4 linked regions of the Homo sapiens genome follow. The protein of the gene in region 4 interacts with the protein of the main gene of each other region in a biochemical or structural test. Each region holds a gene or a part of one and is shown on either strand. Other genes may lie near its edges. The genes, in order: SGK1, UBE2D1, UBE2L3 and NEDD4L.

Region 1 (7,039 bases), on a different chromosome or scaffold from region 4:
ATCTTGGCTGTTGTGAATAAAGTTGTAATGAACATGGAAGTGAAAATACCTCTTTGAGATCCCAATTTCTCTGATTTCCACATATTCTTTGATACTGGTCCACAAGAGAAGGAGCTTGTACCAGATGGTAAATTCATGCACTGCTTCCTTCGTCAATAGAGCTTCACAGGCCTGGCACGGTGGCTCATGCCTGTAATCCCAGCACTTTGGGAGGCCAATGTGGGCGGATTACCTGAGGTCAGAAGTTCAAGACCAGTCTGACCAACATGGCAAAACCCCATCTCTACTAAAAATACAAAAATTAGCCAGGCGTGGTGGAGCACGTCTGTAATCCCAGCTACTATTGAGGCTGAAGCAGGAGAATCACTTGAACCCAGGAGGCAGAGGTTGCAGTGAGCCGAGATGACACCATTGCACTCTAGCCTGGGCAACAAAGCGAGACTCCATCTCAACAAAGAAAAACAAAAGCCTTGTTATAAAGAGAAAATGTCGGTGAAACTAAACAATGACCTTAGTGTCATTCTTGAGTATTTTGATTATTGTTGCAATGGAAGGAATTTATCCACTAAGTAGTTGATGAAACTATAGAATATTTGCAGTAATCAAATGATCACATTACAAAATATATATAAATGGAAAAGCAGTTTTAACACTAAGATCTATATTTAACTTCATGAGAATATATTTGATTGTTTGTTTGTTTGTTTTTTTGAGACAGAGGCTCGCTTTGTCGTCCAGGCTAGAGTGCAGTGGCACGATCTCAGCTCACTGCGGCCTCTGCCTCCCGGGTTCAAGCGATTCTCCTGCCTCAGGTTCCTGAGTAGCTGGGATTACAGGCATGCGCTGCCATGCCTGACTAATTTTTGTATTTTTAGTAGAGACGGGATTTCAGCATGTTGGCCAGGTTGGTCTCGAACTCCTGACCTCAGCTGATCCGCCCGCCTCGGCCTCCCAAAGTGCTGGGATTACAGGGGTGAGCCACCACGCCTGGCCTGAGAATATATTTGAAAGCTAATATCACAGTAGTATAAAGCTGTCAAAAACATGGATCACTGCTGCTCTGTGGAACTTGTTATATGAAATCTATTAATTGTATCTGAGTACAACCACTATGGAAAACAGTATGCAGATTCCTTAAAGAACTAAAAGTAGATTTACCATTTGACCCAGCAATTCCACTACTGTGTATCTATCGAGAGGAAAAGAAATCATATACGAAAAAAACACGTGTGTGTGTATATATATATACACACACATACATGTATGTATATGCATATATACACATACATGTATGCGTATGCATACACACATACATATATATACATGCGTGTATGTGTGTATATGTATGTGTGTGTGTATATCTATATATACACATATATATGTGTATATATATATATACGCATACATGGAATACTACCCAGCCAAAAAAGAACAAAATAATAGCATTTGCAGCAACCTGGATGGAATTGGAGACCATTATTCTAAGTGAAGTAACTCAGGAATGGAAAACCAAATATCATATGTTCTCACTCATAAGTGGGAGCTAAGCCATGAGGACGCAAAGGCATAAAGAGGATACAATGGACTCTGGGGACTCAAGGGGAAGGGTGACAGTGGGGCAAGAGATAAAAGACTACACACTGGGTACAGTGTACACTGCTTGGGTGTTGGGTGCACCAAAATCTCGGAGATTACCACTAAAGAACTTATCCATGTAACCATACACCATCTGTTCCCCAAAAATCTATTGAAATTTTTTTAAAAATGAAAAAATACCTGACAGAAAATGCTCAATAAATATTATTTATCATTAAAAACATGTATCTGCACTAAGAAGAGCCTCTAAGTGGACTAAATAATACATATTGCATATGTACATGTGCTGCTATTTGAGAATATAAAGATCCTGTTATGATTATAAAATAAGAATGCAGGCCAGGTGCGGTGGTTCACGCTTATAATCCCAGCACTTTGAGAGGCCGAGGTGGGCGGATCATTTGAGGTCAGGAGTTCGAGACCAGCCTGGGCAACATGGTGAAACCCCGTCTCTGCTAAAAATGCAAAAATTAGCCAGGCGTGGTGGCACACGCCTATAATCCCAGCTACTCAGGAGGCTGAGGCAGGAGAATCGCTTGAACCCAGGAGGCAGAAGTTGCAGTGAGCTGAGATTGCACCACTGCACTCCAACCTGAGCAACAGAATAAGACTGTCTCAAACAAACAAAAAAAGCATTTAAAGTGCTACTGAATTAAAAGTAGCTTTTAATTAATATGTATTTTCCCAAGCAATATGTACTAAAAGTATCATTTCTGTTATGTGGAGATTCAAACACTTTTTATGTATTGAGTGTCTACACTGATAAATTTGCTAATAATCCAGGGCCTCTTCATACGGCTGTGCAGTTTGTGCACTGCACATAGCACTGGGTGAGCTCCAGCGCCCATGTGCTAACCCAGCCATCAGCCCAGTGAAACTGCTTCATGTGTAAGGGGACCAACTGTCCCGGTTTGCCCAGGACTAAAAGGCTTCCCAGGATATGGGACTTTCAGTGCTATACCCAGCACGGTCCTGAGAAAACCACCCTAATTAGAGCACAGACATGCCATATGTACTAGTTTCAGCCTTGGAATCCTTTCTCTAGAACTATAAGCCTAAAATAGCTGAAATGATGAAGCCATTTTTATATCACTTCTTTTCTCTTTATGTTTTAAAGGTGAGAGAGCCATGTAATCATGCCAACATCCTGACCAAGCCCGATCCAAGAACCTTCTGGACTAATGATGATCCAGGTATTATTGGAAAAATACAACCTGTTTCCTGTTATGTACAGGATACATTCTGTAGTAAAGCTCTACACAAAGGCAAGGTTTGGGGGGAAATATTTTTTTGTTTGTTTGTTTTTTGTTTTTTGTTTTTCTTGAGACAGAGTCTTGCTCTGTTGCCCAGGTTGGAGGGCAGTGGCGCAATCTCAGCTCACTGCAAGCTCCGCCTCCCAGGTTCACGCCATTCTCCTGCCTCAGCCTCCCGAGTAGCTGGGACTGTAGGCGCCCGCCACCATGCCCAGCTAATTTTTTTGTATTTTTAGTAGAGATGGTGTTTCACCGTGTCAGCCAGGATGGTCTCGATCTCCTGACCTTGTGATTCGCCCGCCTCGGCCTCCCAAAGTGCTGGGATTACAGGCGTGAGCCACCGCGCCCGGCCTTGTTTATTTATTCTTACCTAACCCAACACTCGAATACACTGCAATTAATTTTTTTTTTGTTTTTTTTTTTTTTCTGGAGACGGAGTCTTGCTCTGTCGCCCAGGCTGGAGTGCGGTGGTACGATCTCGGCTCACTGCAACCTCCACCTCCAGGGTTCAAGCGATTCTCCTGCTTCAGCCCCCCAAGTAGCTGGGACTACAGGCATGAGCCACCATGCCTGGATAATTTTTGTATTTTTAATGGAGACAGGGTTTCACCATGTTAGCCAGGCTGGTCTCGAACTCCTGACCTCAGGCAATCTGCTGAGCTCGGCTTCCCAAAGTGCTAGGATTACAGGTGTGAGCCACCATACCTAGCCTTGCAATCAATTTTACCCTAAAAGTCCTTTTGTTATGTCTTCTTTTCAGTATCTAAAACGTATATACTAGATCCCTTTGTCGTTTATAAGTGTGATGATTGGGTTTTCATGTTCCTGTGTGAGATATGCCTCCTTCAAGCCTTGTTATGATGTCTGCACATTACCTGCCTGTCATTTAAAAAAAAAAAAAAAAAAAAAAAATATATATATATATATATATATATATATATATATATATATATATATCATCAGGTACAGCTTTGTGGATTGTGAAGCATATTTAAGTGTTGGGAGGAATGAGGAATGAGTCTATTTGCTGGAGTAGAAGACAGAGGAGTTGAATAAAGTGGGCAAACACATGAGTCCAAGTTTGTTTTCTAGGGCAAGGAAGAGATTTGAAAACCTAGGGTGAATCATACTTCAGAATACTTATGGGAGGGCATGTATACTTGCACTATGATATTAGGGCTGTACATCTAATCAGAATCAGAAGAATGCCACTTTATGAGATCGGAGAATATGCTTCAGGTTATATGATTAGAAATTACGCTTAGACAAAGAGTAGGGTATGTTCTCATAGCAAATAGAAGACATTTAAAAATTCTTTTTCACAAACACACATGAGCCGTGAGGCCTAATTGCACAAAGTAGACACTAGAAATAAAAGGGAAGGTGAAGCAAAAAGGAGCTAAAACAATTAAGAGAGTGATAATAGAGCTTTCACCTTTTCTAATGAAATAGGTCTAATGAAATAGAAAACTCACGCTGATATCTGATATTTGTATTATGCCTCACGCTTTTACAAGGAGTATTCACAGAAATCTAATGTAGTGTTTGCCGCAATCCCTTGAAATAGGAGAGACAGCCCTTTCCTTGTTATGCCTCTATTAGAAATGAAATAATAAGCTGAATAGGTTAGCTGACATATCCAAAGCTCGCAGCCAGAAAATACCAAGGCTAGGAGAATGGAGAGTGGACTGCCCAGTTCTATAGCACGCTTCTTAGGAAGAAGCAGCTCTCCTAGCAGAAACAGCTTGGGCTAAATCTGTGCTATAATCTGTTCTTCATAAAAGGGAGTCAGAGGCTGTGCCTATTAGCAGAAACAGGAGGACTTGAGAAGGAAAGTGAGAAACTTTCTGATGGCTTTTTTTTTTTTCAAAGACCAGACTTACGGTCTAAACATTATCAATTTCATCTGTCAAAAAATTGTTTTCTGTCTTGTTTTATTATATCTTTTGAAGAAAGAAGAAAAAACATAAAAGTGAATTAGCCTATTTATGCCATCATTTCAGTCCATCAGCAGTATACCACCACAATAAACAAGCCATCTGCTGGCTAATACTGCTAGTAAGATCTACAGCACATGTGTTATGAAGAAGCAATGTAGAATGAAACATTACCAAAGGAACATAAATGATTCTTGATGTTATGTAAAGAAAATGGAAAGGGAGGGAAATCTGTACAGGACAGGTCTAGAAAATGGTGCTTGACCAGCAGCCCTCAGGACTGCTCTATCTGTGAAGCAGCTATTCTTTATTCCTTTACTTTCTTAATAAACTTGCTTTCACTGAAAGAGAGAAAGAGAGAAACAGAGAAAGAAAGAAAGAAAGAAAAAGAAAGAAAGAAAGAAAAGGAGGGAGGGAGGGAAGGAAGGAAGGAAGAAAGAAAAGAAAGAAAGAAAAAGAAAATGTTGCTTGGACAATTTTTGAAGCCTAAATAAATTATGTTACGGGCTGGGTGTGGTGGCTCATGCCTGCAATCCCAGCACTTTGGGGGGCCAAGGTGGGTGGATCACCTGAGGTCAGGAGTTAGAGACCAGCCTGGCCAACATGGTGAAACCCCTTCTCTACTAAAAATACACAAATTAGCCGGGAGGTGTGGCACGTGCCTGTAATCCCAGCTACTTGGGAGACTGAGGCGGGAGAATCACTTGAACCCAGGAAGCAGAGGTTGCAGTAAGCCAAGATTGTGCCATTGCATTCCAGCCTGGGCAAAAAGAGTGAAATTCCATCTCAAAAAAAAAAAAAAAAGTTACAAGAAAAACTAATGCAGAACACATAGAGAAATAGGAATAGAAATATTTCAGACTTACTCTTTTTTTTTTTTTTTTTTCCTGAGATGGAGTCTTGCTCTGTCGCCCAGGCTGGAGTGCAGTGGTGCAATAGACATACTCATTTTTAAAACGTTTTTATTACTTTTCCTTCATCAGTAGTGTTACAAAGAATGGAGTGTCCCTCCTACAAGAGCTCATCTCATGAAGATCCTTCCCAGTCACCAACTTAACCAACTCATAAAGTAGGATCTATGTCTAGAGTAATTATTTATTTATTTATTTATTTATTTATTTATTTATTTATTTATTTTTTGCCTAGTTGGTCAGTCCATTACTAAGAGTGTTTTAAAATCTCCACCTCTAGTGGTAGAATTGTCTTTTGGTTCTTTTAATTCAGTCAATTTTTGCTTTATGTATTTTGAACCTCTGTTATTAGGCACATATACTTTTTTTTTTTTTTCTGAGGTGGAGTTTTGCTCTTGTTGCCCAGGCTGGAGTGCAATGGCATGATCTCGGCTCGGCTCACTGCAACCTCTGCCTCCTGGGTTCAAGCAATTCTCCTGCCTCAGCCTCCTGAGTAACTGGGATTACAGGCACATGCCATCACTCCCAGCTAATTCTTGTATTTTTAGTAGAGACGGGGTTTTGCCACGTTGTTCAGGCTGGTCTCTAACTCCTGACCTCAGGTGATCCACCCACCTCAGCCTCCCAAAGTGCTGGGATTACAGGCATGAGCCACCGTGCCCAACCACACACACATCTTTATGATTATTATTATTTCCTAATGAACTGATCATTTTATCATTAGGAAATTTCCTTCTTTATCTCTGGTAAAAGTCTTTGTTTTAAGTCTATTTCTTCTGATAGATACAGCCAGTCCAATCTTCTAAAGCCTACTTTTCACATGGCATATTTTTCTTTCCATTTTCTTTCAACCTGTGTCTTATAGTTAAGGTGCTTATCTTATAGACATCATGTGGTTAGATTTTCCTCTTAAAATCCTATCTAATGATCTCTGTTTTTTTTACTTGTGATGTTTAGCCCCTTTATACTTAATGTAATGACACAGTTAGATTTAACTTTACTGTTTTGCTATTTGTTTTCTATATGTCCCTTCTCTTCTTTGTTTGCTTATTCTTCCTTTCCTGACTTCTCTAGGATTATTTGAATAGGTTTTAGAATTTAATATTAATTTACCTGTTGACTTTCTAGTTATCCTCTTTGCATCACATTTTCAGTGGTGCTCTGAAGATTACAATAAATGACTTTATTTTTATTTTTATTTTTTTGAGACAGAGTCTCACTCTGTTGCCCAGGCTGGGGTGCAGTGGCACAATCTTGGCTCTCTGTGACCTCCACCTTCTGGGTTCAAGTAATTCTCCTGTCTCAGCCTCCCAGGTAGTGGGATTACAGGCACGTGCCACCA
Region 2 (5,243 bases), on a different chromosome or scaffold from region 4:
TACAGTATTCATATAGATTCTCATATTCTTTTAAGAATCTTTCACACAGTGTAACTGTCATGCATTAGATATATGAAAGATTCTGTGTTGAAGGGTTAATTCAAGTTCATACGCTGTTTCCTGGAATGGTGTCACAAAATGGATCTCACTTGGCATATAAACTGCCAAGTCCTTATACATATAAAAGAAATGGCAAACTGCCAGATATTGAGTACTTATATTCTGACATTGGTAGCCTTTTATAAAGAATCAGTAGTGTTAGATTCTGGAAACCATCCTGTGAGAAATGAAACAGCCTCAGTTTCCTTATAAGTAAAATGGGGATTCTTATAGTGTTACCATACAGGGTTGCTATGTACCTAGCACATAGTGGGCACTTACATGAATGTTAACTGTTACCCTTTTCCTTACCTTAAAGGATAGACATGGTTTGTGTGCATGATAGTGAAACTGGGGCAAATGGCTCCTGGCAGTAGGGGTGAGCAGAGGAGGAACTTCCTTCTTGCTTACTTTTTTATAAGATAGATCATACCTTGCTCATTTGTTTGTATATTTTTTACTTTGCTATATTTTTTTAAATTTTTAATTTGTTTATCTTAAAAGATTGTTTTTTAATTAAATATAGACAGAGTCTTGCTGTGTTGCCCAGGCTGGTCTCAAACTCCTGGCCTCAAGTGATCCTCCTGCCTTGGTCTCCCAAAGTGCTGGGATTATAGGTGTGAGCAACCTTGCCCAGCTTATTATTTTTATTTTTTTATTTTTTGAGATGCAGTTGCTGTGTTGCCCAGGCTGGTCTCGAACTCCTAAGCTCAAGGATTCTTCCACCTCAGCCTCCCAAGTAGCTGGCATTATAGGCACATACCACCATTGCCTGGAGCTTTTCCATATTTTAAATGTCTTCTTTTGCTTTTTATCATGAGGTTAGTCTGGAAGCATTCTGGGGCTGTAAGTTAGCCCTGAAAATCTGCCCTGTTGGTTTAATATACAAGGCTTTTAAGTTTCATTGGGCAGATAGAAGATAAGAAAGATGAATAAAATACTAATTTTTTCTTTAGTTCATAACACCCCCCCACCCTTTGCCTGTCATTGTAAGAGTCAACTCTGCTCTATAAATCCACCTTTGGACTTGAAAGAGTACGAAAATAGAAAGGAAACGCAGTGGGGTGGGTGCAAGTGGAAATGGGAGGTTGGTCCAGAGGTTCCATGAACCTCCTCAGAAGTGGTGGCATGCAATTGAAGCAGACAAATGAGGAACCAGAGTCCTTGTTCCCTCTTATTTCAGATACTTAGATCGTTAGTGTGTGTGTGTGTGTGTGTTAGTGTAGCTATTTGCATTAGAATTTTGACATACTGGAGTAACAACTACTTTTTCAATTTTCATTTCTTTTTTAAAATATGCAAGCTATATAAAGATAGCTGTTCACATTATTTTTAAATGCATGCAATACAAATAAACTACATTAAGTAAAGATTCATTGAAAAAAATTTTACAAATTTTTCTTCTTTGTAGACAGACTATAGCTCTAAGCCAAAGCAAAAGAGTGTATGAGCACAGTATCCAAAATGGTTTGGACTGTTAACTGTAATTTGATTGTTCTGTAGAGAACTCTCAAGTTTAAAGGTTGTTAATAGCTACTTTGGAGGGTCACATTTTTTTAAATAAATGGGAACTCGGAATTTAAAACTTCAAAAGCTAAAATAATTTTATATTTTATGCATCCTATGGTAATTTTATAACTTTAAAAATTAAAGATCAATTTGCTATCAACCAAAGTAGAATAAAATATAATTTGATGTGTTCATTTTATGTTTTTTTTATAAGTACAGTATCTATATTCACTAAAATTATTTTCACATATGTAATTTGTATGAAGTAGAAGGGTTATTGTCTAATGTGATGTTCTCTTTTAAATCTAGTTTTATTGTCCATATGTTCTCTACTTTGTGATCCTAATCCAGATGACCCCTTAGTACCAGATATTGCACAAATCTATAAATCAGACAAAGAAAAGTAAGTGTTTACTTATTTTAGTTTCTGTATGGATACATTCCTATATAGTATGCCAAAACACGAATATTATCAATATGTTTTAAGTCAATTTGATTATGGTTGTTATATGTATATTGTTTATCTTTTTCCAATGGAGTAAACCTTTCTTTGAGAACTCTGTTAGACCTTTTATGATAAATCTTGTTCCTTCCCACTTACTGTTCAATAGTATATACTCTGTATTTGAAAAATAGATGTATATATTCTAGGTGATAAATTAAAAATGAAAGAATTTAATCATTGGAAAGTATTAAATATATATTGCTTATCTTCTCCAAGGAAGAGGAGTTCTCTCGTACCCATCCAAACTGACCTAATTCTCAAGCTGCTTCATCTTGCTAGTACTGTAGGTTCATTTGCAATTTGTAGATAATGCTCCTTCAGGATTGGCTTTTGTAAATTTCTGTTAGAAGCTGGTTTCTGCATTTTGATTTTTGTGTATTTGGATACATTTTCATATAGGTTGCAGAGAAATCCATGAGTTAAAAAATTATTTTTCCTGTTTTATTTCTGCATGAACCTAAGTCACATTGACCCAGTAATTGATATATGTGTGATTATTGCAATTAAGTATAAGAAGGTAGAATATATAGTTTTATTAGACAGATGCTTCTGAAATATTAATTTTGTATGTTTTTACTATATCCTTTTTGTGTATCTACAGATACAACAGACATGCAAGAGAATGGACTCAGAAATATGCAATGTAAAAATCAAAAACATTTTCATATATACCAGAGTACTGTAAAATCTAGGTTTTTTTCAACATTAGCAGTAAATTGAGCACTGTTTACTGTTTCATTGTACCATGAAACCATTTGATTTTTACCCATTTTAAATGTGTTTCTGAAGCAAGACAAAACAAACTTCCAAAAATACCCTTAAGACTGTGATGAGAGCATTTATCATTTTGTATGCATTGAGAAAGACATTTATTATGGTTTTTAAGATACTTGGACATCTGCATCTTCAGCTTACAAGATCTACAATGCAGCTGAAAAGCAACCAAATTATTTTTTGCTGAAACTAGATGTTTTTACATGAGAAATACTGTATGTGTTGTCTAAGATGTCAGTTTTATAAATCTGTATTCAGATTTCATTCTTTGTTAGCTCACTTTATAATTTGTATTTTTTTACTGTATAGACTAAATATATTCTATTTACATGTATGTCAACTCATTACTTTTTTCCTGTGAACAGTATTGAAAAACCCCAACGGCTGATAATTAAGTGAATTAACTGTGTCTCCCTTGTCTTAGGATATTCTGTAGATTGATTGCAGATTTCTTAAATCTGAAATGATCTTTACACTGTAATTCTCAGCATACTGATTATGGAGAAACACTTGTTTTGATTTTGTTATACTTGACTTAACTTTATTGCAATGTGAATTAATTGCACTGCTAAGTAGGAAGATGTGTAACTTTTATTTGTTGCTATTCACATTTGAATTTTTTCCTGTATAGGCAATATTATATTGACACCTTTTACAGATCTTACTGTAGCTTTTTCCATATAAATAAAATGCTTTTTCTACTATTTGTCTTGATTACTTAAAAAAATAAAAATATAAGTAAGGATCAAAACTCTAAAATTTTGCATGAAAATTACATCCAAATTGTGAAAATCAGATCTATTTTGTTTGCCATTAGTCACCATTAGTTATATAAATTTTATTGTTTTAGGTTAGTATCTCTTTACTAAATTGTCAGTCTATAAGATAATATATGTTGATCCCTTGCTGTAGAGGAGAATTTAGAGTAATTTGGGGTTTGTCTTGGATTATATCTAAATGGATTATTTGTTAAAAGTACTGAAATGAGTATAAGGCAGTATCACCCATCCAAAAGAAAGGTCTTTATAGACCTGCACAGTCACTAGATTAATTCATTAAAATGCCCCCACCCTGATGTAATTGACATTACATTTCTTAACATTTTAAAATCTAGAATTTCTAAAATGGAATTTAATGCCATCACAATTTGAAAAACTTTTTTTTTTTTTTTACTATAGAAGTTACAAAGGAAGTTCTAAAATTATGCCTCCCTCTGTTTTTATAAGTTGCCATCGAAAAGTGATTTAAATAAGCAGGTTATCTTTATAGATTTTAAAGAAAACTAGAAAGTTTTAATGTTTTAACTTGGGGAAAAATACATCTCTTTAATGTTTAGCATGCTTGTCAACCTTGAGTGAGTGTCATTTTTAAGAACAGTTGTAGCCCTTCTGATTATTGCAGTAGCTGTAGAAGTATGTAAGAATATGTGATGGGTGTAGTCATTAGCAAAGCATTTAAATCACTTGAGTATTTTGTCATGGTTCATTATTATTAAAGCACAAAATAACCTATTGTTAGAAAATATGTGTTTTTATAAATGAATGTAAAATAATTAAATGAATTGTGAAATGGATGTTTAAGAAAATATAGGCTTAAAAAGTAAATCTATAAAATGATGTCTTAAAACAGCCATATCATGAAAAATTCTACTTAGCTATATTATTATAAGCTACATTTGCCCTGAATTTGAACACTCAACATCACTAGATTTAAATATTTAGTATATTTTGATAGTAAAGGGTTTTGTTTCTTGAATATCTTCACTTTAAACAAAAAAAAAAAACAACTTTCATTTGTGTGGCATTTATTTTTGGAAGTGTCTTCTTTTTTTTCTTTATTAAAGTTTTTGAAACTTGCCTAACTTGTTTGCCTTTGCTTACATCTGGATTGTACTGGACTTGAGGAGTAAGCAGAAGTTCTCATAATTAGCTAAAAACCTTGAGTTCCATAGTGGCGTCATGATCGGTCAGAACACCATTTTGGGTATATTATTTTTGCTTAACTCTAACAAGGAGAACATCAGTTACCTTTTAAAACTGTAGAATAAAAGTCAGGGCCTTTTGTGGATTAAGCATTAATTTAAGGACTTCCTTGGAGTGAGAGAAATAGGTAGTCTTTTGGGGATTTAGGATCCCACTTCTTGAAGTTGCATAGTTGAAAACCATGTTCAAATTGGATTCTGAACGCTTATAACTGCCATATACAGCAGTTACCCACATCAGTGACATGGGTTGTAAGGGGCAGCCTCACCACCATCCTCCAACTATCTCAAAAGCGTACAATTCCTGAAGTACAAGCTTTACATATATGCCTCCGTCAACCTTATTTATTAATTTTTGCATTATTTCCCTGTTTC
Region 3 (7,039 bases), on a different chromosome or scaffold from region 4:
TATTATTATTATTTTAATAAAATAGAGACGGGGTCCTGCTATATTGCCCAAGCTGGTTTTGAACTCCTAGGCTCAATCGATCCTTCCACCCCAGCCTCCCAACATGCTGGGAATATAGGTGTGAGCCACTGCACCCAGCCCCCATCTCTATTTATTTAAAAAAAAAAAAAAAAAAGGAAAGGGAAAGGGAGAAGGAAAGGGAACTAGAAATCAATAACAGAACTAGAAAACTCACAATTATGGGGAAATTAAACGTACTCTCTAACAAGCAATGGGTCAAAGAAGAAATCACAAGGGAAATTAGAAAATATCCTCAGAAAAAAAAATGACATACCAAAACTTAAGTTATGCAGCAAAAGTAGTGCTCAAAGGGAATCTACAGCTTTAAATACCTACATTGAAAAAGCAAGTCTGAAATCAATAATCTAACTGGATATTTTAAGGAACAAAGAAAGTAATAACACAAGAAAGAAGTAAATAGTAAGCACAGAGGAGATAAATGAAAAACACACACACACACATTAATGAAACCTTCCTTGAAGAGATCAACAAAATTGAAAAAACTTTAGCTAGACTGATAAAAGGAAAAAGAGAAAAGACTCATATTATTAAAATAAGAAATGAGGCAGGGCATAGTGGTGTAATCCCAGCACTTTGGGAGGCTAAGGCAGGCGGATCACTTGAGTCTAGGAGTTCAAGACCAGCCTGTGCAATATGGCAAAACCCCATCTCTACAAAAAAAAAAAAAAAAATACAAAAATTAGCTGGGCGTGGTGGCTCATGCCTTCAGTACCAGCTACTCTGGAGGCTGAGGTGGGAGGATCGCTTGAGCCTGGGAGGTTGAGGCTGTGGTGAGCCATGATCATGCCACTGTACTCCAGCCTGGGCAACAGAACGAGAGCCTGTCTCAAAAAAAAAAAAAAAAAAAAAAAAAAAAAAAATCTACATATAAATGGATCAAAGATCCAAATTTAAGAGCTAAAACTATAAAACTCTTAGAAGAAAACTCAGGAAAATTTGCATGACCTTGGATTTGGCAACAGTGTCTTAAAAATCAAACCAAAGTATAGGCAACAAAATTAAAAATAGATAAATTGGACTTCTTTATTAAAAATTTAAGGCCAGGTGTGATGGCTCACATCTGTAAATCCCAGAGCTTTCAGAGGCTAAGCCAGGAGGACCACTTGAGCCTGGGAGTTCAAGACTAGCCTGGGCAACACAGCAAGACTCCATCTCTACAGAAAAAATAATTAAAATTAGCTGGGGGTTGCAGCATGTGCCTATAGTGCCAGCTACTTGGGAAGACTGCTTGAGCCCAGGAGTCTGGGGCTGCAGAGAGCCATTATTGAGCCACTGCACTCCAGCCTGGATGACAGAGCAAGACCCCTTCTCTAAAAATAAAAATTAAATTAAAAAATTTAAAACTTTAGTGCATCAGGCCAGGCACGGTGGCTCAAGCCTGTAATCCCAGCACTTTGGTAGGCTGAGGCGGACAGATCACTTGAGGTCAGGAGTTCGAGACCAGCCTGGCCAACATGGTAAAACCCTGTCTCTACCAAAAAATACAAAAATTAGCCAGGTGTGGTGGTGCACGCCTATAGTCCCAGCTACTCGGGAGGCTGAGGTGGGAGAATCACTTGAACCCGGGAGGCAGAGGTTGCAGTGAGACGAGACTGTGCTTCTGCATTCTGGCCTGGGCAACAGAGTGAGACCCTGTCTCAAAAAGAAACAAAAAAACAAAAAACACACCATGCAAAAACATGTTCTACATCCTTAGTATGAAGAAAACAGAAATCAAAACCACAATGAGACAGCACTACATACCAACTAGAATGGCTGTAACGTAAAAACAAAAAAAAAGTAAAATAACAAATGTTAGCAAGGATGTGGATGAACTGGAACCTTTGTAGTGGAAATTTAAGACGTTACAGGATGGGCGCAATGGCTTATGCCTATAATCCCAGCACTTTGAGAGGCTGAGATGGGTGGATCACCTGAGGTCGGGAGTTCGAGACCAGCCTGACCAACATGGAGAAACCCAGTCTCTACTAAAAGTACAAAAATTAGCCAAAATTGCTTGAACCCGGGAGATGGAGGTTGCAGAGAGCCGAGATCGCATAACTGCACTCCCCAGCCTGGGCAACAGAGCAAGGCTCTGTCTCAAAAACAAGAACAAAAATTAGCTGGGCATGGTGGTGCACACCTGCAATCCCAGCTACTCGGGAGGCTGATGTATAAGCATCACTTGAACCCAGGAGGCTGAGGTTGCAGTGAACCAAAATCACACCATTGCACTCCAGCCTGGGTGACAGAGTAAGACTGTCTCAAAAAATAAAATAAAATGGAATAAAATAAAAAGAAATTGGCTGGGTGTGGTGGCACACACCTGTAGTCCTGGCTACTCAGGAGGATTGCTTGAGCCCAGAAATTCAAGGCTGCAATGGGCCATGATCACACCACTGCACCCTAGCCTGGGTGACAGCACAAAACCCTGCCTCAAAAAACCAAAACATTATTATGAAGTTATGAAATGGTTTATTAAAAACTGCATGAAGGCCAGCGTGGTGGCTCACGCTTGTAATCCCAGCACTTTGGGAGACTGAGGAGGGTGGATCACAAGGTCAAGAGACTGAGACCATCCTGGCCAACATGGTGAAACCCCGTCTTTACTAAAAATACAAAAATTAGCGGGGTGTGGTGGTGCGCACCTGTAGTCCCAGCTACTTGGGAGGCTGAGGCAGGAGAATCGCTTGAACCCGGGAGGCGGAGGTTGCAGTGAGCCGAGATCGTGCCACTGCATAGCGACAGAGCGAGACTCCAACTCAATTAAAAAGAAAAAAAAGAAACTGCATGAAAAAAGGCTGAGAGGAAGTATGCTGAAGGTTAAGAGTAAACACATTCACTGGGCTAGAAGCTTCAAGAAGGGTGACTACCACACCTCTAGTTCCTAAAGGGCAGTACACAAAATGTAACTGAATTTCTTGATGATGTGATTATGGGTAATATTTTCTTCCTTAGACGTTACCTTAGCATCTTAGATGAAAAAAAATTACAGAAAAACAAATGTTTAAAGGGAATAGACCAGAGTTGCGTTGGCAACAATGAAGTCTCTAGGAAGTACCTCCCCAGCCTTCCCTCCCACCTGCCCTCCTCTGTGCACTACGACCAGGGCAATCGCTAGGTGGCTACCCAAGGACAGCACCACTCTCCACTAAGGACCAGGGCTGGGCTGCCATGCCTTCATCGGCCTGGCTCTACTTTTACCCCAACTGGGCAGACCTCAGGTGAGTTTGTATAGTAGATTCCCATGCTGGCCCAGCCCGTCCAATGCAGGAAGACCTAAAGCCCAGGTTGGGGTACAAGTGTGGACCCTGGGGATGTCAGATGTCAACAATGCCTTAACTGCTCTGGAGAAGGAAGAAGACTTCATTGAAACATTCCTCATACAAACCCAGGGGCCCTGGAAGAAAGCAAGGGAGAGGACCGAGAAGAAGTGGTATACACAGGGACAAGAGCAGCCCTGGCTGTTGCTTACCGTCTCCAAGGTGAAACTTTGGCCTGGATAGCTCCCCAGAGCCTCAGCCCAAGCACACTTGGATTCTACCAGCCAGCCTCCACCTTTGCCCTAGTAAGATCTTAGCCCACTGCTCCATAGCCCCTGCCAGCGTGAAACCAGAGGGAGGCCTTTGCATGAGTTGGGGCAGAGCATGCCCAGCAGCAATCTACCCGTGGAGCTGGCTAGCAGGCTCTCAGGCCACTAAATTCTCAGGGCCAGACTGCCCAAGCCTTACCACTTAAAACCATTCCATTCATTTTTATCATTTTCCAAAGAGCCACAGATTAACTGTTCATTTCTTTGCTCAGTAGACTACACAATCTCAATTAGAAAAGGGACAAGAGGTCAGATGGTCCCGGCCATCTTCAGGTCCCTAGAGTAGGCAAGGGCTGCACTCACAGGCCAACCCCTCCCATGCAGAGGTGTCTCTGCCACCCACACCCTTTGCCCTGAGCCCTAACACCATCAAGCCTAAAGAAATCTAAAGGACTCATCTTCAAAATCAGACTGGAAGCTCCCAGATTTAAACATTCTGAGCATACTAAATCATTACAAAGCATATCTTTCCTTAGTTATCCAAATGATTATGGAAATAAACTACAAATCCAATAACTGCTGATCAAATTCAGGGACTTAAAAAAAAAAAAGCATGACCTTATAACCAGCATCAAGAAGAAAGCATCTACAGGAGGGAGCATGCTCCATGCTCACCTTATAACCAGCATCAAGAAGAAAGCATCTACAGGAGGAAGCATGCTCCATGCTCACCTTATAACCAGCATCAGGAAGAAAGCATCTACAGGGAGAAATCATCTACAGGAGGAAGCATCTACAGGAGGAAGCATGCTCCATGCTCATGACCTTATAACCAGCATCAGGAAGAAGCATCTACAGGAGGAAGCATGCTCCATGCTCTGCTTTGGCAAAGCAGCCAATCCATCCATGAGAACAAATTATATACAGGACAGCGGCAGGCACAGGGCAAGGGCCAGAGGCTCAGATGTGCAAAGTGGGAATGAAAAGGAACAGAGAAGGTGAGTGGATGAGGAAGAACAGGAAAGGAGGGCACTCACGCAGGACAAGGGTGTGAGCTGAGGTAGCTGAAGGCTACACAATGACCAAGTGAGGCCGCCTGGTGGACAGATGGTGCAGCTTCCGGGGAGAAGGCAGGAATGGAGACAGGTGTGGGAATCCTTCATGTCTGGCATAATCATCTATGATGCCGAAAGTAGTAGGGTCCCGAGACAAAACAGAACAGGAGAACAGCAGGAGACCAACAAGAGTCATGTTTAAGAGTGAGGAGGAAGGAGTGGCAGAACAGGAGCGAGTGGCAGGCTGGTCACAGGACTGGGGGCTGGAATGCTGCCCGTGCTCCAAAAGCTCAGGAGGCAAGCAAGGGCCATGATGCCAGCACTGCCGAGCTAGAGGTGTGACAACAGTGGGGGCAGCCTGTGGGCTGGGTGTGACGTGGTTTCAGGAGAGTGAGAGGAAGGGGGATTGCAAACTGGAGTTAATTATAAGACAAGCCTCTTGAAGGGGAGGGGATCAAAGGATGCAGAAAAGAGTAGGCACTAAGAGGGTGCTAAGGAAAGCCATCGTTAGGAGGGCCTTGAGCCCATCAGAAGGCAGAAGACTGTGAGATGGGGGAGCTGGGCTGTGGGGGCAGACACTGGAGGCATAAGCCCCAGAAAAGACATGGGGTGAGGGGAACATGTGGGCAATTAGGAAAAGGGACTTGAGACAAATGGAAGGCACAGGTTGGAGGGGACCAGGAATAAAGCCCGAAATACAGGTATCCAAAGGGTTAGAGACATGAATGCAAAACCAAGAGAGAAAGCAAAATATCTAGAGGGGAATGCTTGTCCCCTCCTGAGGAGCTCAGAGAAGAAGGTCCTGCTGATCCATCAGGCCAGGCGCAGGGAAGTCAGGAAAGAGCAGGAGCACAGACACACTCCTTTTCTCTGTGTCTACAGATCTGCAAAGCTCAGGACTCCCTGAATTTGACAAAACGAGTGCCAAGATGTGACTCTACTCAGGACCCAAGGCTACACTCCCTACCTTATCACCCTAGAGCGACAGCCACTTCTGTGCATCTGCTGGCTGCCTAGACTAAGAGCCTACTAAGGAGCAGAAAAACAAGCCCAACAGCACACACATCACCTTAAAGAATAATCTGGTAGGAAGTGGAAGTGTTCAATACTCACAGGAACAATAAGCCCTTGCCAAGTCAATAAATTAGCTTCATCAACCTGGATGTTACGGAAGTTTTTCATCCCACATTTGCGGATTTCTTCAAGCTCCTGTTGATTGACAAAGCATAAAGGGGTGTCAAATAGGGGAAAGCACCACATATTAAGATCCCTCCTGATGCCCTCAAATTAAACCAAGTGCCAAAAATGCTAATGACAAAATTGGACAGTGAGGACTAAACTGTGCTTGGAGTGGTTAAGGAGGCATGGAGCTGCCATGGCGGTCCCCTCTGCAAGGTTGTTGCCTCTCCCCATGCCCCAGACCAAGACAAGCCCCCACCTCAGTGAACCCCCCTGAATAGGACAGGGGGAACCATGCTTCTGCAGACGTACCACCTCCTCTTTGGGTTGGTCACCATGGCTGTTTAAATCCCTCAGCACCCTGCATAGGGCAGACATGTGGCAGGAGCTATCCTGAGGTGCTCTACACCTGATACCTTCCAATCAAGATTCATTAAGCACTGATTATGCACCGGATGCTGAGAAGCTAAAGATGAATAAAACTGGGGACTGGGAACAAACCAGACACAAACGCATATCCAGTTTTCTACCCAGTGCTATAAGTGTGATTTCAGAAGGACTCCACCTCAACATGGGCACACAGCAAAGAGAACCATCCAGTCTGGGACTGGGGTGGGAGTGGGGGGGTGGGGACGGGAAACCTTCACTGAGCCTGTTTCCTCAGCTGCAAAACAGACCCAGAGTGCAGAAAAGGAAAGGGAAGCCATGTTGTGGGCAACAGGACCCCTTGCAAATATGTGGGGTTATTGTTGTATAAACAGTCAATGCAGCAAGTGCCATTTCACCCAGAAAGCACAACTTTACGACTTCAGGGTCCTGCCTGAGATGTCTTCAGAACTGTCTGTCACCTGTTTTTCAACTGTGCACCAGCCTGACATTTCCCATTGCCTCCAACATCTCAGTGAATGCCTGGCAGGCGCTATAACCCAAACCACCCAGCAATGCCCTCCTGCCAGAACACCAGCCTCGCCAACATTCCTCCACTCTGACACATGAAGTGCCACTCTACCCGCCTCAGCCCGGCCTCCCATCCAGTGGCACAAAAGCCGCCTCCACACCTGTCAGGCACCTTCTCTTCTGCAGCCCGAGCACCATCCAGCTGAGCCCTGCCTCCTTCGCCAGGCTGCTTCCTCTGGCCCAGCTCCAGCACCCTCCAGAACCTCCTTACGTGGTACTTCAACTCACAGTGGCTTGGGGGCTCCCTATCAGCCCC
Region 4 (7,989 bases):
CACTCTTCTAAATAGCGGTCAAAATATCTTCATATGTGATATTCTGCAGCACACCAAGTCTGCAAACTAAGTGTACCCATATTTAATACGCCTTGGAAGAACAACCCTGCCGTTTGCTTCAGCGGGCATTCTACTTTCAGAGCCTGCTAAAATCTTCCATTGGTTTTTCTTACACATACTAATTCAGGGAGACAAAACAAGCTGTGCAAATTCAACAATTTGTCGTTAATATTCTACGAAGGCATTCCCTGATTCTCTGAAGGGCAACGTGACAGCATGAAACTGCCCATGAAAAACAAATACCAATGAAATGTGAAGTCATCAGAACTGCCCTGGCTTATTTTTTCACTGGTAGGAGAAAGTTGAAAAAGGAAGACGGCTGAGACTCATCTTGTGAAATACAATGTGTGTGGAACTAAATACTACCAGCGACATGGCAATAAATAGATAATAAAAGGTGTCTTCATCACCTCTTGCTATTTCCTATACAGCCCCAAATTCCCTTCTAGCAACATGCAGGAGTGAATCCAGTCACATGCCAACACACACTCGGACTCTGTTTACATTCCAAGCTTCACTTTCACACTAGACATCAGTTATGATGATTAGTAGTGACTCCTGTGGACAAAAGTGGCAAGATGTGCTCTAGGTAGATTCTGACACTCACTGCCAATGTAAATAAAGCACAAACAACAGTGACATTAACGTGTTTCATTTATCCAGCTGCACTTCCCAAAACACTCTTAAAATCGTTTTTTCGGGGGAGTTTTTACAAATAATCATGTTATTAAAACATTTTTTAAAAGAACCTAGGATGAAATGCAGCTGTCCTCACCCCCACCCCCCACAATACGTCAACCCAAGCAGCCCCTTTGTTTAGGAATGTCTGCGTCTCTGCAACTCAGGGCCTGCCCTCTACTGCCACTAATTAAATGGAGAAGTAGAGGATGCAAGGGAAAGCTCCTCAAAGAGAGAAGCCAGGAGGGAGAGGAGAAGCCCCCCGGGTCAATGAAACAATGCTACTGTCACCTATCCCCAGGTAGTTACACAAAACGGGAAATTATTTTACAAAAGCACAGCGAGGCAAAATAAACACACAAATCACACATTATTTGCACTGTGATCATTCTTTGATCAAATAAATACATCAAGCTTTGCCTAGCACCGCTAAGAAAAAAATTCATACCCTAAACACCCTTCCCACCCCAAAATACCTTTCATTCCACACTTACGTAGCACACAGGCACACACACACACCATGCCAGGGTAGGAGAGCCGCAGAAAGCGGAGCCATAACGCGAGCCTGTCTCAGATAATAGCCTTTCTTCCAACCCCACCCCCAACACGAGAGAAAGAGGGAACCTCTGAAAAGAAAGGAGGGAGGGGAAGAAAGAGAAATCGAGAACGCCTGAATTTCCAGGCATCAACTTTTCATGAAATGCACAACCAGGATAGGAAATACCTCCCTGCTGAGTAATGCTTCTTGGGTTGTAAAATTCACCTCTCGAAAGGGGAGCCAGACCTGAGCGCGCACCCCGCCAGATGGCAAACCACTCCTACCTGCTCCATCCAGCCTGCCTGTCACGCCGCGCCCGCGACAAGCGTCCCACCCCCCTTTTTGGCAGAGCAACATACCAATAAGAGCCGAGCGTGGCTGGTCGAGAGAGGACTAGGCAGTGATTTAGCAGGATTGTTTCAAAAGGGGGGAGTGGGAGACACGGAAGAGAGAATGAAGGTAAAAACAAAGCCCTTTCCAGTGAAACCGACCGCCTGGGAGGCGTGGCTTATTCAGTCGCTTTATTAATAAAAGAGATCAATTAAGCTTTCCTCTCCCCACCCACCCTGGAGGTGCCGGGCTTTGAATCCTCGGGAGGAAAAAATGGCAGGGCTGCAAGCTTCCTCCCCAAGTTTCCAGGAGCACCTGCCACCAGCCTTGAACACCTCCCCCACCGAGGCTCCGAAATCCACAATCCTGGCCGTAGACTTTGCAAAACGAGGGGAGGGACACACGCAGCGTGTCCCCCATTCCCGCCGGGATAAGCACGCACAGGCTTCTGAGCGCCTGCTGATCCACACAATCATGAGAGAGAAAGTTCCAGGGGGAAACGATCCGGCTTCTCCGCAGTCCCGGGTCTCCAGCCGCGCGACCCAGACGTGACATGCATCATGGACTCCCGGGCTGCAGGGGCGAGAGGCGGAAAGTTGCCCAACAGCCCCGGGAGACGCTGCTTGGAGAGGAAGAGGGAAGAGAGGCACGCATGCCCCCTCCCTCTCCTCCCGAAAGCGAGGAGCTGCGGAGTGAACCCCCAGCTCCAAGGGCGTCGCGCCGCTTTATTTACAAACAATGAGCTCGGCTTGCGGAGGGTGGGGGGTGCGGAAGGACCCAAGCTCCCCTGGATCCCGCTCCGGGGCGCTCCCGCTTTGGGGCTCCCCTGCAGACGCTGGGCACGAGCACCCCGGGGACGGCCCCTTTCCCCTCCCCCTGCCGGCGCGGGATAGGAACTCCCCGGGGAGTCCCGAGCAGGAAGGGGGTGCCACTCACCTCGTCTTCGGAAAGTCCATAGACCGGCTCCCCGAGCCCGGTCGCCATGGAGCCGGCGCCCCGCGCGGGGTCTGAGGCGCTCCCAGCGGCTGTGCTGCGGCGCGGACGGCCGGTTCTCCCCTCTGCCTCCAGGTCCCCCCGGTCCCGCACCCTACCCTGCGCACGCCCTGCCGGGTAAGCGGCCGGGCGCCGGCAGGTGAGGGTGCCCGAGAGCGCGCCCTGGACGCTGCCGGCACCGCTTCCTCCCGGAAGGCTGCGGGACCAGCGGGCGGGCGGCTCCCGAGAGCGCGCCGAGCACCGGGCGGCAGCCCCGGCGCCTCTCACTGCGCGCGGCGGCGGCGCAGACCCGGCCGGGCTTTCCCTCCCCGCGACCCGCGCCTCCCTCCCGCCCCGCCGCTCTCCGCCCCCCTCCGAGCCTCCTCTGCGCTCCCGGGGACCCGGCTCGCCCGCCTCCTCGCTAGCGCCGTCCGGGCCCCCGCTCTCTCCGCCCCCTCCTCCGCCTCCTCCCACCGGCGCCGCGAGGGTACCCTCCCCGTTCGCCGGGGCGGGCACACGCGCCCCCCAAGCCAATCACAGGCCGGGCTGGCGAGCGGGCCGCGGGCTGCGGGGGTGGCGGAGTTCAGCCCCACGCCCACCCCGGCCCGGGGCCTCCAGCGCGGCGCGGCGGGGGTCACCCGGCCGCGGGGCGGATCCGCAGGGGCGTGTACTGGCGCGCTTGGCCGGCGCCGCCGACCCTCCCTCCTCTCCCGGTTTCCCTCCGCTTTAGGGAGGGGGCGGGCTGGACGTTTGGGGGCGATAGAGGATTTTGCGAACAATAACAAAAACGCCCTGAGCGTTTCTTCCTCCCGGTGGTCTTTTTACCGAGAGCCCTGAGCTCGCTGTTAACTGTGAAAAGGGGAAAAGATGGATGTTTCTAGACCCCTTTAAATTCTTTGCGGCCCCGACGAGCAGGACTTGGCTACATTGTCAGCTCCCGGGAGCGAGCCGCCCGGCCCGGCTGCCAGCCGAGGAGAGGCTGCCCCAGTGTGGCCGCAAGTCGCCATTGCCTGTGTCAACCTTGCAGGGAACAAAACCAACATAGCGCCCGCCCCGGTTACACACCCACCCACGCGAAAACAGACAGCATGGTTCTTTGAATAAAAAGCAGTTCATTTGTGAGCCGCAACGTGAAATATCAAACTCAAGCTTAAGGTTATCCTTTGCATATGCAAATGATCGAGACGTCTTATTAGCCACCGTAGGATTCTTCCCACCACCCAGCTACCGTTTCTCTAGCAAGCAGTTCATTTAATCCTTCCGATTTATAGGACTGCAAGAGACTACTTTAAATAAGTGAAAGAAATTCGTCAGTCGACTTTTTCGGAAGCCTTTCCTTAAATTTAGATGTTAAGTGCAGTTGGGAGTTCAAAAAGAAAACAGACGCAGAACATTCCATTTGCCTTTGAAAAGGAAACGTCAAAGTGCCTACTTGGGTATTACCAGGATGCATTTAGGATTTTCATTCAAGGAAGTTCAGAGAGAACTCGCGTGACCCGAAGGAATCATATTCCTCGTTGCCAGCTACATAACTAAATATCTGCTGTTCGCCCTGCTAGTTCGTTTTCAAAAGAGCCCACCCATGCTACCTTAAGCTCTCCTTTGCCTTCCTGCAGCATGACTGGCTTAAAACCTGTGCCGTAGAATGGGTTTCCTTTGACGACTTAGCCCCATGGAGTCAACATCCTACTCAGAAGCCTTCTCTAGAAGTCTTGAGCCGTCAAGTCCACAGTACTTACAGGCCACAAAACCCCCAATGAGAACTATTTATGGAGGACTATTTAAAAGTCAGATTTCTGTCCATTCTTTCAATACTGAGGTTTTTCAACCCTTTCAAACCTCGAGTCTTTAGACCGGGCACGGTGGCTCAAACCTGTAATCCCAGCACTTTGGGAGGCTGAGGCGGGCGGATCATAAGATCGGTAGTTCAAGACCAGCTGGCCAATGTGGTGAAACTCCATCTCTACTAAAAATACAAAAATTACCCAGGCGTGGTGGCGGGCGCCTGTAATCCCAGCTACTCGGGGAGGCTGAGGCATGAGGATCCCTTGAACCTGGGAGGCGGAGGTTGCAGTGAGCCGAGACTGCGCCACTGCACTCCAGCCTGGACCACAGAGCGAGACTCCGTCTCAAAAAAAACAAAAACAAAAAAAAACAACCCTAAAGTCTTTTGATAAACAAAAGGTACACGTGCACACTCTGTCTTTCTCTCTCTCTCTCTCACACACACACACACACACACACACGCATTCTCAGATGCCCTTGCCCTAGCCTGTGACCCTCATGGATGGGAGTCAGTGCTTCTCTACCTACCCTCACTAGCCAAACCTTTGTAAAATTTGTACAGTTTATATTATAAAGGAAGAAAAGTAATTGAATAATAATGCTAGCATTTTGGGAGGCAGAGGCAGGAGGATCATTTGAGGCCAGGAGTTCGAGACCAGCCTGGGCAATATAGAGAGACCCCTGTCCCTACAAAAAAAAAAAAAAATTAAAAATTTGCCAGGTGTGGTGGCATGGGCCCATAGTCCTAGCTACTCAGGAGGCTAAGACTAGAGGTTCACTTGAGCCCAGAAGTTCAAGGTTACAGTGAGCTATGATCGTGCCATTGCACTCCAGCCTGGATGACAGAGAAAGACCCTGTGTCTCTAAATAAATAAATACATAAATAAATAATTCTTAAAATGTGCTGATAGAAAATTATAATTTCTAATTACACAGGACACGCCTTCCACATCCTGGAGGTACACAATTCCAGGCTTCGCCTTTGGGTAAGGCTATGTTATCTGGAAACTGTAGAGGGGTGTGGCAGTTTCTCTTCCTGTCTTTTATCATCTACTCCCACACACCCACCGCAACAGCCTATAGCCCTGCACTCAGGGTCATGTCCTTGTCTTTCCCTGAGGGATGGTTATTAGGAACTATAATATGAAACTTGCCATATGTCACTTATTGTGGGGTGTTTATAAAATCGTGATCCATGACATCAACATCCTCTGTGAGAAGACTAATAAACTAGACATTTATTTCAGATCTATGAAGAAAAGCTCTTTTGCTTTCAAGAAACTGGTAAGCTTTTGCATGGCAGATGACCAAAATTATTAAAACCGACTGTGTTTTTCTATCTACTTTGGCCACCAGGAAGCTCAGAACCAGTTTCATGGTCTTAAGCCATAAAAGAACCCATTAAAAAAAATCCCTTTTGTAACTATATACCAACTTTCCCCCAGTGCTGTGGTTCTCTACTCAGCATGTACATTGCAATCACCTGGGGAGCTTTCAAATAGACTAAGTGCCCGGTAACCAGCATCAGAGGCTATGATTTAATGGATTCTGACATCAGTAGTTTCAACAGCCTCCCAGGTGATGCTAATGTGCATTTAAGGCTGAGAACATCAGCTTAGTTTCCAAATTTTGCTATACATAGAAACATTTGGGAATTTTTACTACTGCTCCTCTCTGCCTCCCACTCCCAGGCGTTATGATTTAATTAGTACAGGGTGCCACATGGGCATCAGGAGCTTTAAAAGTTCCCCAGGTGATCCTAATGCACCACTGCCAAGTTTAGAGACATCTGGCCTAGATTTATATTACTATTCTTTTTTTTTTTCTTTTTCTTTTCCTTTTCCCCGAGAGACAAGTTCTTGCTCTGTTGTCCAGACTGGAGAACAGTGGCATGATCACAGCACACTGTACCCTCAAACTCCAGGACTCAAGTGATCCTCCCACCTCAGCCTCCCAAGTAGCTGGGACTACAGGAGCACACCATTGTACCGGCTAAGGTTTTTTGTTTTTTGTAGAGATGGGGTCTCCCTTGCCCAGGCTGGTCTCGAATTCTAGGCTTCAAGTGATCCTCCCACCTTGGCCTCCCAAAGTGTTAGGATTACAGGCATGAGCTACTGAGCCCAGCCTATATGCCTTTTCTTTATATATTTTCCACCACTCTGTTTTTTCATTCGTTTTTTTTCAACTTAGAGGAAATTGCATGTTATAAACACACTCAAATCTTTTGTGGAGTGAGGTAGAATATAAACAAACATACTTAGAAGACTAGCATCATCAATCAGTTTACCCATCATCTACTCTGAAGTCTCAGATTAGTAATCCAATTTCTTTTCTTTCTTTCTTTTTTTTTTTTTTTTTTTTTGAGATGGAGTCTCGCTCTGCTGCCCAGGCTGGAGTGCAGTGGCGTGATCTCGGCTCACTGCAAGCTCCGCCTCCTGGGTTCACGGCATTCTCCTGCCTCAGCCTCCCAAGCAGCTGGGACTACAGGCGCCCGCCACCACGCCCGGCTAATTTTTTGTATTTTTAGTAGAGACGGGGTTTCACCTTGTTAGTCAGGATGGTCTCGATCTCCTGACCTCGTGATCCACCTGCCTCGGCCTCCCAAAGTGCTGGGATTACAGACATGAGCCACCTAGCCCAACCTAGTAATCCAATTTCTTTGGGGGTGAGGGAGGACAACCCTTAAAGGGAACTATTCAGCAGGTGTATCAAAAGCAATGTTTCCTCCAGTCCGTTTTGCATCTACCCAACAATTACATAGAACCTTAACTTGTAGAGTCTCCTCTAGAATTCGTTTCCCTTTGTTCCCTTTGCAGGCTGCCTTTAGCATCTTAGATTTGATACTGTGGGTGTTTGGCAAATACTCTTCACTTGGATCATCAGAAATGAAAAATTAGCAGGAACAATTTTAAAGTACAATGGGTAATCACAAATAGGGAACATTTTAATGCTAAGCCTCTTTACAAATTATTGAGTTGTCTTAGCAAAACTATGTAGATCATAATCACATCTGGGAAGTACCCAAAGAAGAAGAATACATAATGTCACATGTTTAAGTTTCATATAAATAACACTCGATTTTTCTCTTCAATTTTCAGTGATGATTTGTCTTCTTTAAAAAGAAGGCCTATTAAGCAGACATTTCGAAGATGGCCACAAACCTGTAAAAACTGGTATCATCTTGGAACTCAGCACCATTCCTTGACACACAGAAATGTAACAAATTTAAGCCGTTTATGATCATATAAGAAATCTATATTATGCTTCAAATTTTTGACAAATATAGAGGTGGGTAGCAAAGAATGACTTGTAAATAGCTCATCTTTTTGTATAAAAATAGCTACATTAGGCCATTCTTGCAATGCTATTAATGAAGAAATGCCTGAGGCCAAGCACAGTGGCTCACACCTGTAATCCCAACACTTTGGGAGGCTGAAGTGGACAGATCCCTTGAGTCCAGGAGTTCGAGACCAGCTGGGCAACAAAGTGAGACCTCATCTCTAAAAACAAAAAATACAAGAATTCGCTGGGCCTGGTGGCTTGCGCCTGTAGTCTCAGCTACTCAAGGAGCTGAGGCAGGAGGGTCCCTTGAGCCTGGGAGGTTGAGGCTGAGGTGTGCCGAGATC

Evidence for each region.
Region 1: of the proteins of NEDD4L (region 4) and SGK1, one has a biochemical effect on the other in vitro, tested with the Homo sapiens proteins (5 studies listed by BioGRID).
Region 2: the proteins of NEDD4L (region 4) and UBE2D1 form a complex in vitro, tested with the Homo sapiens proteins (7 studies listed by BioGRID).
Region 3: the proteins of NEDD4L (region 4) and UBE2L3 form a complex in vitro, tested with the Homo sapiens proteins (11 studies listed by BioGRID, with this or other methods).

Annotation. Positions count from the first base shown.
Region 1 is NC_000006.12:134,203,106-134,210,144, reverse strand, and holds part of SGK1 (serine/threonine-protein kinase Sgk1), read left to right. Parts: intron 1-2,713; coding exon 2,714-2,789; intron 2,790-3,630; exon of another isoform or gene 3,631-3,734; intron 3,735-7,039. UniProt on the Homo sapiens protein: Serine/threonine-protein kinase which is involved in the regulation of a wide variety of ion channels, membrane transporters, cellular enzymes, transcription factors, neuronal excitability, cell growth, proliferation, survival, migration and apoptosis.
Region 2 is NC_000010.11:58,366,006-58,371,248, forward strand, and holds the end of UBE2D1 (ubiquitin-conjugating enzyme E2 D1), read left to right. Parts: intron 1-1,917; coding exon 1,918-2,011; intron 2,012-2,714; coding exon 2,715-2,760; 3' UTR 2,761-4,743; downstream 4,744-5,243.
Region 3 is NC_000022.11:21,591,678-21,598,716, reverse strand, and holds part of UBE2L3 (ubiquitin-conjugating enzyme E2 L3), read right to left. Parts: intron 5,857-7,039; coding exon 5,761-5,856; intron 1-5,760. UniProt on the Homo sapiens protein: Ubiquitin-conjugating enzyme E2 that specifically acts with HECT-type and RBR family E3 ubiquitin-protein ligases.
Region 4 is NC_000018.10:58,039,262-58,047,250, reverse strand, and holds the start of NEDD4L (E3 ubiquitin-protein ligase NEDD4-like), read right to left. Parts: upstream 3,026-7,989; 5' UTR 2,591-3,025; coding exon 2,543-2,590; intron 1,595-2,542; exon of another isoform or gene 1,463-1,594; intron 1,318-1,462; exon of another isoform or gene 1,233-1,317; intron 26-1,232; exon of another isoform or gene 1-25. UniProt on the Homo sapiens protein: E3 ubiquitin-protein ligase that mediates the polyubiquitination of lysine and cysteine residues on target proteins and is thereby implicated in the regulation of various signaling pathways including autophagy, innate immunity or DNA repair.